Homo sapiens: one gene and its partners. The protein of the gene in region 2 purifies or fractionates together with the protein of the main gene of each other region. This does not show direct contact. Each region holds a gene or a part of one and is shown on either strand. Other genes may lie near its edges.

Evidence for each region.
Region 1: the proteins of CPNE9 (region 2) and MAP1S purify together in Homo sapiens (affinity purification with mass spectrometry; one large-scale study listed by BioGRID and IntAct). This does not show direct contact.
Region 3: the proteins of CPNE9 (region 2) and PTGES2 purify together in Homo sapiens (affinity purification with mass spectrometry; one large-scale study listed by BioGRID and IntAct). This does not show direct contact.

The regions. Positions count from the first base shown.
Region 1 is NC_000019.10:17,725,838-17,729,559, reverse strand, and holds part of MAP1S (microtubule-associated protein 1S), read right to left. Parts: coding exon 1,388-3,722; intron 1-1,387. UniProt on the Homo sapiens protein: Microtubule-associated protein that mediates aggregation of mitochondria resulting in cell death and genomic destruction (MAGD). Plays a role in anchoring the microtubule organizing center to the centrosomes. Binds to DNA. Plays a role in apoptosis.
Region 2 is NC_000003.12:9,702,177-9,705,998, reverse strand, and holds the start of CPNE9 (copine-9), read right to left. Parts: upstream 2,167-3,822; 5' UTR 2,003-2,166; coding exon 1,935-2,002; intron 1,827-1,934; exon of another isoform or gene 1,808-1,826; coding exon of another isoform or gene 1,413-1,807; coding exon 1,372-1,412; intron 1,251-1,371; coding exon 1,204-1,250; intron 1,109-1,203; coding exon 1,005-1,108; intron 536-1,004; coding exon 499-535; intron 282-498; coding exon 279-281; intron 13-278; coding exon 1-12. UniProt on the Homo sapiens protein: Probable calcium-dependent phospholipid-binding protein that may play a role in calcium-mediated intracellular processes. Plays a role in dendrite formation by melanocytes.
Region 3 is NC_000009.12:128,120,193-128,122,461, forward strand, and holds the end of PTGES2 (prostaglandin E synthase 2), read right to left. Parts: coding exon 2,170-2,269; intron 1,082-2,169; coding exon 953-1,081; 3' UTR 501-952; downstream 1-500. UniProt on the Homo sapiens protein: Isomerase that catalyzes the conversion of PGH2 into the more stable prostaglandin E2 (PGE2) (in vitro). The biological function and the GSH-dependent property of PTGES2 is still under debate.

The DNA of each region.
Region 1 (3,722 bases), on a different chromosome or scaffold from region 2:
CACTCCAGCCTGGATGACAGAGTGAGACTCTGTCTCAGAAAAAAAACAAAGAACAGCACAGCAGGCCAGAGACCCTCCTCTCAGCAAGGCCTGCTTAAAATGTGAGCCTTTGGCTGGTCTCTGGGAATTTGGATCTTAGGCAGAGGGTTCCCACCATTCCCTGTCTGAGAGGGGCTCCCTGTGCCTGGACTGGACCACACACCTGATTTCTCCTTTTTGGGGAGTCTAGAGTGTGGGTGCCAGGCAGAAGATGCCTATGTAATGGCCCAATAGGAAACCTGGGCATGCTGTGTCTAATGAGCTTCCATGAGGGACACACTGTTACAACTTGCTACTGGAGAAATGAAGCCTGTGGTGTGCAGCCCCACTGGGAGAGGATTCTGGAAGCTTCTGCCTGGTTTCCTTTGGACTTCACCCTATGTGCCTTTTCTCTTTGCTGATTTTGCTCTGCTATGAGTGCAACCATAGGCCGGGTCCTCCTAACCAATCAGTTACATAAAATACGCTATTTAAATTTTCAACTGTTTCATTTTACTTATTGTGGCTTCTAGAAACCCACAGTTGGCATACGTGCTCACCTGTCCAGGCACCTCAGAATGGCAAGTGCTTCAACACTGAGGTCAGTTTCCATTTCACAGGAGAAACTGAGCCCCGGAGAGGTGGGCACGGCTGAGGTCACGAAGTAATTACGAACAGGAGGACTTGGCTGGGTGCAGTGGCTCATGCCTGTAATCCCAGCACTTTGGGAGGCCAAGGTGGGCAGATCACCTGAGGTCCGGAGTTCGAGACCAGCCTGGCCAACATGGTGAAACCCCAACTCTACTAAAAATACAAAAATTAGCCAGGCGTGGTGGCAGGCACCTGTAATCCCACCTACTCGGGAGGCTGAGACAGGAGAATTGTTTGAACCCGGGAGTCAGAGGTTGCAGTCAGCCAAGATCGTGCCATTGCATTCTTGCCTGGGCAACAAGAACGAAATTCTGTCTCAAAAAAAAAAAAAAGAACAGAACTGGCAGGGCACCGTGGCTCACGCCAGTCATCCCAACACTTTGGGAGGCTGAGGTGGGCACACAGCTTGAGGCCAGGAGTTTGAAATCAGCCCAGGCAACATAGTAAGACCCTATCTCTACCAAAAACTTTAAAATTAGGCAGGGGTAGTGGCGGTGCCAGTAGTCCCAGCTACTGGAGAGGCTGAGGTGGGAGGGTGGCTTGAGCCCCATTGTTCAAGGCTGCAATGAGCTGTGACCACACCACTGCACTCCAGCTCAGAGACAGAGTGAGACCATCTCTTTTAAAAAAACTGAAAATGTAAAAACAGGGGGACGAGCTATGCTCTCCAGCCTAAGCAGCTGCTAACCCAGCCCAGGGCCCCAGCTCCAGTACTCACCCGACGGGCCTCGAGTGGCAGTCTTGGGGGTTGAGGACTTTCTGGACAGGGGTGCCCGGCCTCCCTTCTCACTGGGCTCACTCCGGGCACTGAGTGGTCGGCTGGCACGGTCCCCACCAGCAAGCCCCTTGGTTTTGGCAGCAGCCACTGGAGTGGCTTTGGGGGCGGCAGCGCGTGAGTTGGGGCGGGCCAGGGGCTTCCGGGTGCGGCTGACGTTCTCCGTTTGCCGTGCTGTCTTGGGGGGCAGCATCTCGGGGTCCACCATGCAGATGCTGGATGGGTCAGGCAGTGGTGGGGGGACCTTGAGGGGGTCAGGCAAAGGGTCGTGGCGAGGGACTCCAAAGCCCTCTGTGTCTTCGTCTGAGTCTGCCGCACCGGGGGCCAGGGGCACGGGATCCGAGTCAGACAGGGTGGGCAGGGACTCGCTGACCGATGTGGGTGGCGTCTCCTCGGCCCCCAGCCCACCTGCCCGTTCCTGTGACCGGGCACTGCTGTCATTCGAGCTGCCGGGGGACGCAGGTGCCGGTGCCATTGGCACCGCCTTGCGATGCTCAAATTCACAGGGTGACACCAGGCACAGGTCCACATCGTGTGGGGAAGCCGAGCGCCGCGCCCGGGGGCCACGCAGCGGGAGGCTCAGCCCAGCCTCACTGGTGGGGGCGGATGGCGGCAGCACCTGCTCAAAGGACACCGACAGGGACTCGTCCACCTCGGTCGAGTGCGGGGAGCCCACCTCTGCGGGTAGTGAGGGCGTGGTCACCGTGGGTGTGGTCACTGTGGGTGAGGCGTCTGGCCCGGCCTCCCCGCCCCGCAGTGGGCTCAGCGACAGCCGCTCGCTGCCCTCTGCGGGGCTCCGGTGGGACTCAGGGGAGGGTGTGCGTGGCCTTGGGATTGAGCTGGCGGCCAAAGGCAGCTCCAGTGCCTTCTCCTCCCCGGCTGGGATCGGCCCCAGCTCCAGGCTGGGCGTGGCCACCAGCTGGGAGGCCGGAGAGCCGCAGGCTGCACTGGGGGGGCTGGCTTCTCCACATCGGAGGCTGGGCGGGCTGCGGGGTCCATTTGCCACCGGCGGGAAGCCAGAGTGGGACGTGCTGGGCGCTTTGCGGGGCTTGGGTGCCGCCTGGGCATTCGTCTTCTTGAGGTTGGGCACAGAAGAGGCTGCCCGGCGCACCTCCCGCGGCTGGGTCCGGGAGACACTCGGTTTGGGGTCTTTCTTCAACTCCCGGGGGGTCTTGGCTTCTTTCTCAGTCTTGCGTGGGGCCTCAGCCCGTGCTGGCTCCTTGCGGGCCACCCCAGGGCGCTCCTGGCCAGGTCTAGGGTGGGTGGCCAGGAGGCCCTCTCTCTTCGAGCTGTCCCGGGAGCCCACGCTCTCTTTGCTCTCGGCTCGCCCCGGCCCCTCCAGGTCCTGGGGCGTCACCACGGGCTCTCGCAGGAACCTCAAGTGCTGCAGGCGGACCAGGCCGTCCAGGAGGCAGGCGGGCGGGGTGCAACCGGGGAACAGCACGCGCACCACCTTCTCGCCGGGGCCGGCGGGGTGCCACACCAGCAGGGCGCACACAGAGGCCAGCGTGCGCTCGGCGCCGGCGGAGGGCGGGTGCAGCACATACATGTCCAGCCGGCCCACGCCCATCTTCTCGAAGAGCACGGTGGGTTTGGCTGGCACGGGGCCGCGGCTGAGTGGCAGAGGCGTGATGCCCAGCTGCGCCAGGAGGCTCAGCGCCAGCTCCGCCTCATCCTCGCCGCGCGCCAGCCGCGACGCGGCCTCGCAGGCGTTGAAGAACACGACCCCCAGGTTGGGGGAGATGAGCCTGCGCAGCCTGTCGTCCCAGGAGCCCCCACCAGCAGCCACCTCGGAGCGCTCCGCCAGTTTGCGCCGCAGCAGGCTGTTGAGGCCGGGGAGGCTGTCGGCGCCAGGGTGGGTCACCAGCACGGCATCCACGCGGTCCAGGTGCCGCACCAGCTTCCAGAAACTGGACTTGGGGTTTGAGCCACCGTTGACCAGCACAGTGAAGCCATTGACGGCGAAGAAGGCGGCATCCCCGAGGCCTCCAGGGAAGATGTAGCAGCAGGGCCGGCCCAGCCTGAGGAAGCCCCCGGAGGTCGGGGGCTCCAGCAGCTCGAAGGGGGACGGTGGCTCCAGAGACTCAGCCACGTACTCCAGGAATTCGCACAGGCCCTCAGAGTTGGGCAGCTGCGCCGGGGGGTTCAGCCGCAGCTGGAGCCGGAGCGCCCCCTGAAGGCCAGGCACAGCGGGTGCCAGCTGAGCCCAGTCACCGAAGGTGGGGCAGGTGATGGTGAGTATGGGCGGCTGCACAGGTGGGGGCGTGGTGGCCAGGAT
Region 2 (3,822 bases):
TCCCAGGAAATCCTATGCAGGACAAGGAGTCAGCAAGACCAGAAGCTCTTGAGTGCTGAGTCCCAGCCTAGCCCCAGTGATGCTCCTGCACAGGACCAGGGCAGTTCCCAGGCGAATGAGTGGTGCAAGAGCCACGGCCCTACATGGGCTTTAATGGAGGGGGTGTGAAAGAAGGGGTCTGCGAGCAATCTCTGCCTTGTAGTGGGTCATCAGTCCAAGCCTGTTCTCCACAATACCACCCCCACCCCCAACCTCTGCCCAGCCCCATTCAGCCTCACCTTCTGCAGGTCCCAGCAGTGGCAGCCAAGAAGGAAGAGGAACAGTGAGTAGGGGGCACAGGCAGGACACTCAGGCAGGAGGAGAGGGACCAGGAGGGTGGGTTGGGGGCCTGAAGAAGATGGGGTCTGGGTCGAGGGTTGGGAGGAGTTCTGAGAGTCGTTGAACACATCTAAGTGCCTCCTGTGCGCTCCGCCAACCCTCGAGGAAACGTTTGCTCACCGGTTTGGAGATGTTGGTTTTGGAGTCCACGTTGTACCTGGGAAAAGAGTGGAACCGGTGTGGGGTGGGGCTGGGTGGGGGAGAGGGTGGAAAGGGGTCGGGCACCGAGTCTTGGTGAAAATTTTGGGTGGAGGGATGGGCGGCCGTGGACCCGAATTCAGCTTTGGTCTCCTTTTGGGGAGGAGTCAGGGTGGGCTGAGTAGTCAGACGGTCAAGCCTGGGCCGAGGCCAAGTCAGGGGCTGCTGGGGGCAGGGTTGTGTGGAAGGGGTCGGGCCTGAGGTGGAGCTGCGATAGGAGCAGAGTTGTGGGCGGGGCCAGAGCGGGGGACGGAACTGGACCGCATCTCATAAAAGGGCAGGGCTCAGGCTAGAGGGGGCCATTCAGAATGGGAGGGAGGCCTGCGAGAAGAACCAGGCCGGAGGCGAGGCGGGGGTGGGGCCAGCCAGAATTCCGGGCGGATCCAGGTCGGGGGCGGGCCAAGCCAGAATTCCAGGCGGGGCCTCACACATCGAAGCGCAGATTTTGCTTTTCCTCAAAGAAATAGTCGAGGACGAATTTGCGCACGAAGTCTGGGTTCAGCGTGTTATCAATCACCTCGGTCCGTCCGAACTGGGTAGGGGGGTGGAGGGTCAGCGTGGGACGTGCAGACGGGCAGGGGAATTCCCGGGCGACGCCCTGGGCCGGGAGGGGGCTCTGGGACTCACCTCCCGCCACTCCTGGCTGGCCCGGCTCTGCGTGTAAAGCACCACCACTGCAGGTGGGGGCGGGGAGGGAAGGACGTCAGGTCGGCTCCCACCCCTGGCCCCGACTCCACCCGCCCCTGAGTCGCGCCCAGACCCCAAGTTCCCCCTCCCGGTCCTGGAGCCGCCTACTGGGGTCGGACTTGGAGAAGGTATCAAGGTCTAGCAGGTTCCTAGAGAAAAGCAACAGACAGACAGAGTGGATCATCCTGGAGTCCGCCCGCCTCGAGTCGGCTCTGAGCCGGGCACTGAGGAGAGGCATGGGGCCCGCATCGAACCTCTGTCCCCCATGGCTACCCCCAGCCGGGGTCCGCTCTGTCAGCACTCTGGACAGCACCGGAAATCGCTGTCCAGGAACCATGGCTCTGCGGACTGGACGCGAACGCACCCACACTGTCTCCAAGGGCCCAGGAAAGAGGGCTCGCCCCAGAACTTTGTCCTCCTGGGGCCGAGCTCCTACCGGATATCTGCGACCCACCCCCTGAACCCGCAGGCTGAGCCCTTTTTTCGGGGTGGGGCTGCCCAAGACCCCCCGCTTCTCGATCCCACCAGCTACTCGCCCTGTCATCAGCTGTGATTTTCCAGCCAATTTCGCCTCTCCCCGGGGGTCTAGCCCCTGCCCAGGCTGAGCCCCGCGGCTGGCTGGGGCTGGGGCAGTGCCAGTGCCTAAGCCCTCCCCAGCGCGGCCCGCTCACCGGCAGGACACGGTAATTTCAATCTTGGTGGCCGGGACGCTGCGCTCGGAGGCTCCGCCGAGAGACATGGCTGGTCGGGCGACCAGAGCCGCAGGAGGCTGCGAGACCAGGGCTGCTGGGGCTAGGGGCGACGGCAGCGGCGGGGCCGGCCCATGTGCCGCGGTGTCGGCGGCGGCGGCGGCTGCACTCGCTCCAGCCCTGCGTGCGCTCCAGCCGCTCGCGCCCTGACAGTGGCCGCCGGCGGCAGCGGCTCCAGATGGCAGCACAGCCCCGCCCGGCCCTGCGGGCGGCCCCCGCCCCATTGGAGCAGCCTGGAGCCAGCGGGGAACCTCACCCCGACTCCCAACTCCAACCCACACCTTGGTAGAGTCTGCCCTGCGCAAGTCTCTGGGGTGGAAACCCAAGCCCCCTAGAGTTGTCCATGATGCTGAAACATTTGGGGCACCTGGTGGGCACTGGAATTGTTGCCTCTTACTGAGCCACTCCCTTAGTGTTTCTGTCTTTTCCCACTCCCAGCCTGCCTAGGTCTCTGAATAGGAAAAGTACATCTCTTAGTAGCTGTGTGACCTTGGACAAGTTACTCAACATCTCTGTGGCTCAACCGTGAAAGGCCGTCAGAAAGGCCTTTAACAGCAGCTACTTTAGGTGCTGTAAAATTTTACTGAGATAACCCAAGGAAAACACTTAGCACACAGCAAGTGCTCAGTAAACATTCACTGGTATTTATGATTTGTCCTCTGGGTATTCACAATGATGACAGTAAATGGTGGCTGTTGAGCACCGTGCAAAGCTGTCTGCCCATGCCTTTAACCCTCACGACTTTCATGGCGTTACAGATGCGGACACACTCTCATGACGCAATCTACTGTAGGTTACACTGTAGAAGAGGGTGGTGGTCAGCCAGGCTCTCACCCACCACACATGCACACCAATTGCTATCTCCAAAGCTTCAGAAGCCAGTCCTTCCTCCATAGGCAGGGCTCAAGGTAGGGGATGCAGGTCACCCGTACCAGGACCCTGCTGCCTACAGAACTTGTTAAAGATGAAGATCCTGGTCAGGTACGGTGGCTCATGCCTGTAATCCCAGCACTTTAGGAGGCCAAGGCAGGCAGATCACTTGAGCTCAGGAGTTTGAGACTGGCCTGGCCAACATGGTGAAACCCCATCTCTACTAAATACAAAAATTAGCTGGGGATGGTGGCACGTTCACGTAGCTACTCAGGAGACTGAGGCAGGAGGATCGCTTGAACCCAGGAGGCAGGGGTTGCAGTGAGCCAAGATTGTGCCATTGCACTCCAGCTTGGGTAACAGTGAGACTCCATCTCAAAAAATCTGAAAAAAATGAAGATCCTCCAGCTCCTAATTCCCAGGCAACTTCCTTAGCAACCCTAAGGCTAAAGCTCAGGCAGCCCTGGGAATGTGCACAGCTCATCAGGCTCTCTAGGTGACTAGGACCTGCTTAGGCCCGAGAACCACTACTCTCAACAGTCTTGAGTGTTGTCCCCACTGCAGGGACTACCATGGCTCATGAGTGGAGAGGTATACCTGTCGCCAGTTCTCTTCCTGTTTCACCTGCCCTCCACATAAAAACCCCTTGTCCAGCACAAGGAAGGACAATGAGAACCTTCCTAGTAGCTCCACAAAGACAATAACCAAATGATGACACAAGAGTGGCTATTCAAAAAGACTTTGATTTTATTTTGTGATCTGTGTCAAACTGCCTCATTCTCAGTGCAGGTGATCCCTCCTCCCCAGAAACAAGAACTGACAGGTAGGGTCTTTGTGAAGTCATGGCTTCCACAAGGCCCCAGGGAAACCCCACACAGTTCTGAGAGTTGATGGGAATCCCAGCAAAGATGGGGTGGGTGGGAGACAGTGACAAGAAGGG
Region 3 (2,269 bases), on a different chromosome or scaffold from region 2:
CAGGAAAGGGGGTCCCACCCACAACCCACACTCACCCTGGAAGGCAGAGCCTCTTCTCCCATAAAGCCTGGCCCAGCCTGGAGCTGAAGCCCGGGGCCGCCACCTGAGAGGGCTTGGTTCTGTCTGTAGAGCAGGGGTCTGAATAGCCTGGTGCCCTGGACCAGGTGACCCGGCTCTGTGCACTGCACCTGCTCCTATCACTGAACTCTCCCACAAGGCGGGGACAGACGAAGAAACTGAGGCTTGATGAGTGACCCCACTGCAGAGCCCCACCGTGGGTAGGGTGCCCCGACCTGCACTCTGGCTGCTGGGCTCCACGGCCCAGCTGTGTGCCCTGAGTGGTATCCTGGGGACGATGCCACACAAAGCCTGCGGAGCCGTACCGTGCCTGACACCTGGGAAGCCCCAGGCCAGCGGTTAGTTACCACAAGGGCTGGCACAGCCCAAGCCTGATGCCTCCCTTGACCGCCAGCCCCACGCAGCACTCAGCCACACGGAGCTCCATGAGATGCCTGCCATGACAGGCGCCACAAACCTTTCCTTTATTGCAAACATGTCCCAGTCCCGGGAGGCTTGGGAAGAGTGGGAACCAGGGGAACCCAGGGATGGGATTCCACTGAAAACAAACCGTCCTGCTGTCCTGTCGAGGGCCCCCACCCACAGGATGTAGCCATGGGACAGCCACTGAGGGTCCAGGAAGAGGGGCGGCAGAGCAGGGAGGCAGGGACAGGGAGGGGTCGCCCCAGGGCAGTGGCAGGGCTGGAACTCGTCCCTAACATCCCTGAGCCCCAGCAGGTGCCCTGTGTTAGAAGCGAGAGGGCTGGTGGGGGTGCGTGGACAAGGGGCAGAATGATCCTGCCCCCAACCAGTATCGCCAGGCGCTGGCCCAGTGGCCCCAGGCCCTGGCAGCTGGCGTCTTCCGCTGCCTTCCCTCTGCTCTGCGCGGGGACATTCAGTGCGCTGGGGAGGCCTCGGTGATGGCCCTCTCCACCCGCAGGTACCAGGGCTGGATGTGCGTGTGCTGCATCAGGTCATCGAACGCATCCAGCCCCTCCATCACACGCAGCACGCCATACACCGCCTGGGGCACGAACAGAAACGTGTCACCATAGCTGGTTTGACAGGCATCCAGACCTCCTTCGTTCCCTGCCAGCTGTGTGGCCAGGTCCCGTCCCCTCCCCCCTTGGAGCTCGTGACCCACTCAAGGGCCAACAGCACAGGTGAGGGTTTGAACAAAGCATGTGGGGTGGCTGCAGGTCTCGCCTGCTTCACATCTGTACCCCCTTTTCTGGGCCACAGACCCTGCCCCCCAGCAAGTTTCCTTGGGATAAATGCCCTCCCCTCATCTCAGGTCCTGAGATGGGGGAGAAGAGACCCCACCACCCAGTTTCAAGACCCAGGTCACCCAGGGGCAGGACAGTTTTAAAAATGAGCAGTGGGCCAGGCACGCTGGCTCACGCCTGTAGTCCCAGCACTTTGGGAGGCCAAAGTGGATGGATCACCTGCGGTCAGGAGTTCGAGACCAGCCTGACCAACATACTGAAACTCTGTCTCTACTAAAAATTCAAAAATTAGCCGGGCATGGTGGCACAGGCCTGTAATCCCAGCTACTCAGGAGGCTGAGGCAGAAGAATTGCTTGAACCTGGGAGGCGGAGGTTGCAGCGAGCCAAGACTGCACCGCTGCACTCCCGCCTGGGTGACAGCGTGAGACTTGGTCTCAAAAAAAAAACAAAAACAACAACAACAAAAAAAAACAAAAGGAAAAAGGGCAGTGAAGCCAGGCCAGTGAGACGCCCTCCCAGGGGTTTTCTGGGAGAAGCCTGGAGCACCGGACCCAGCCCGCCTGAGGCTGAAGCCAACTCCAGGGAGGGCAGTGTTGATGGCGACAGGTAGAGCTTGGGCTCTGGTAACACCACCCGGGCCTCTGGATCCAGCAGGGCCCGAAGCCAACCCGTTCCCTGAACTTGTCAGTTATGTGAACCAAGGCGGTTCCTGGTCATCTGTTTCTCTCCTGGAGCCACTTCGAGGCGAGTTTCTGTCCGTGATGGCAGAGAGAGGCAGGTTCCTCTGGCAAGATGCAAGCACCGTCCAGGCTTTCCCTTGCAAACCTCCCCCACTCTGAGGACAGAACCCTCGGTCCAGGCACCACCTGCCACCACCACACTCACCAAATCAGCGAGATTCGGCTTCTGGCCCCCCATGAAGGGCCGGTCCTTGCCCACAGCAGCCACCCACTTGTCAGCAGCCTCATAGAGGTCCTCGCGCACG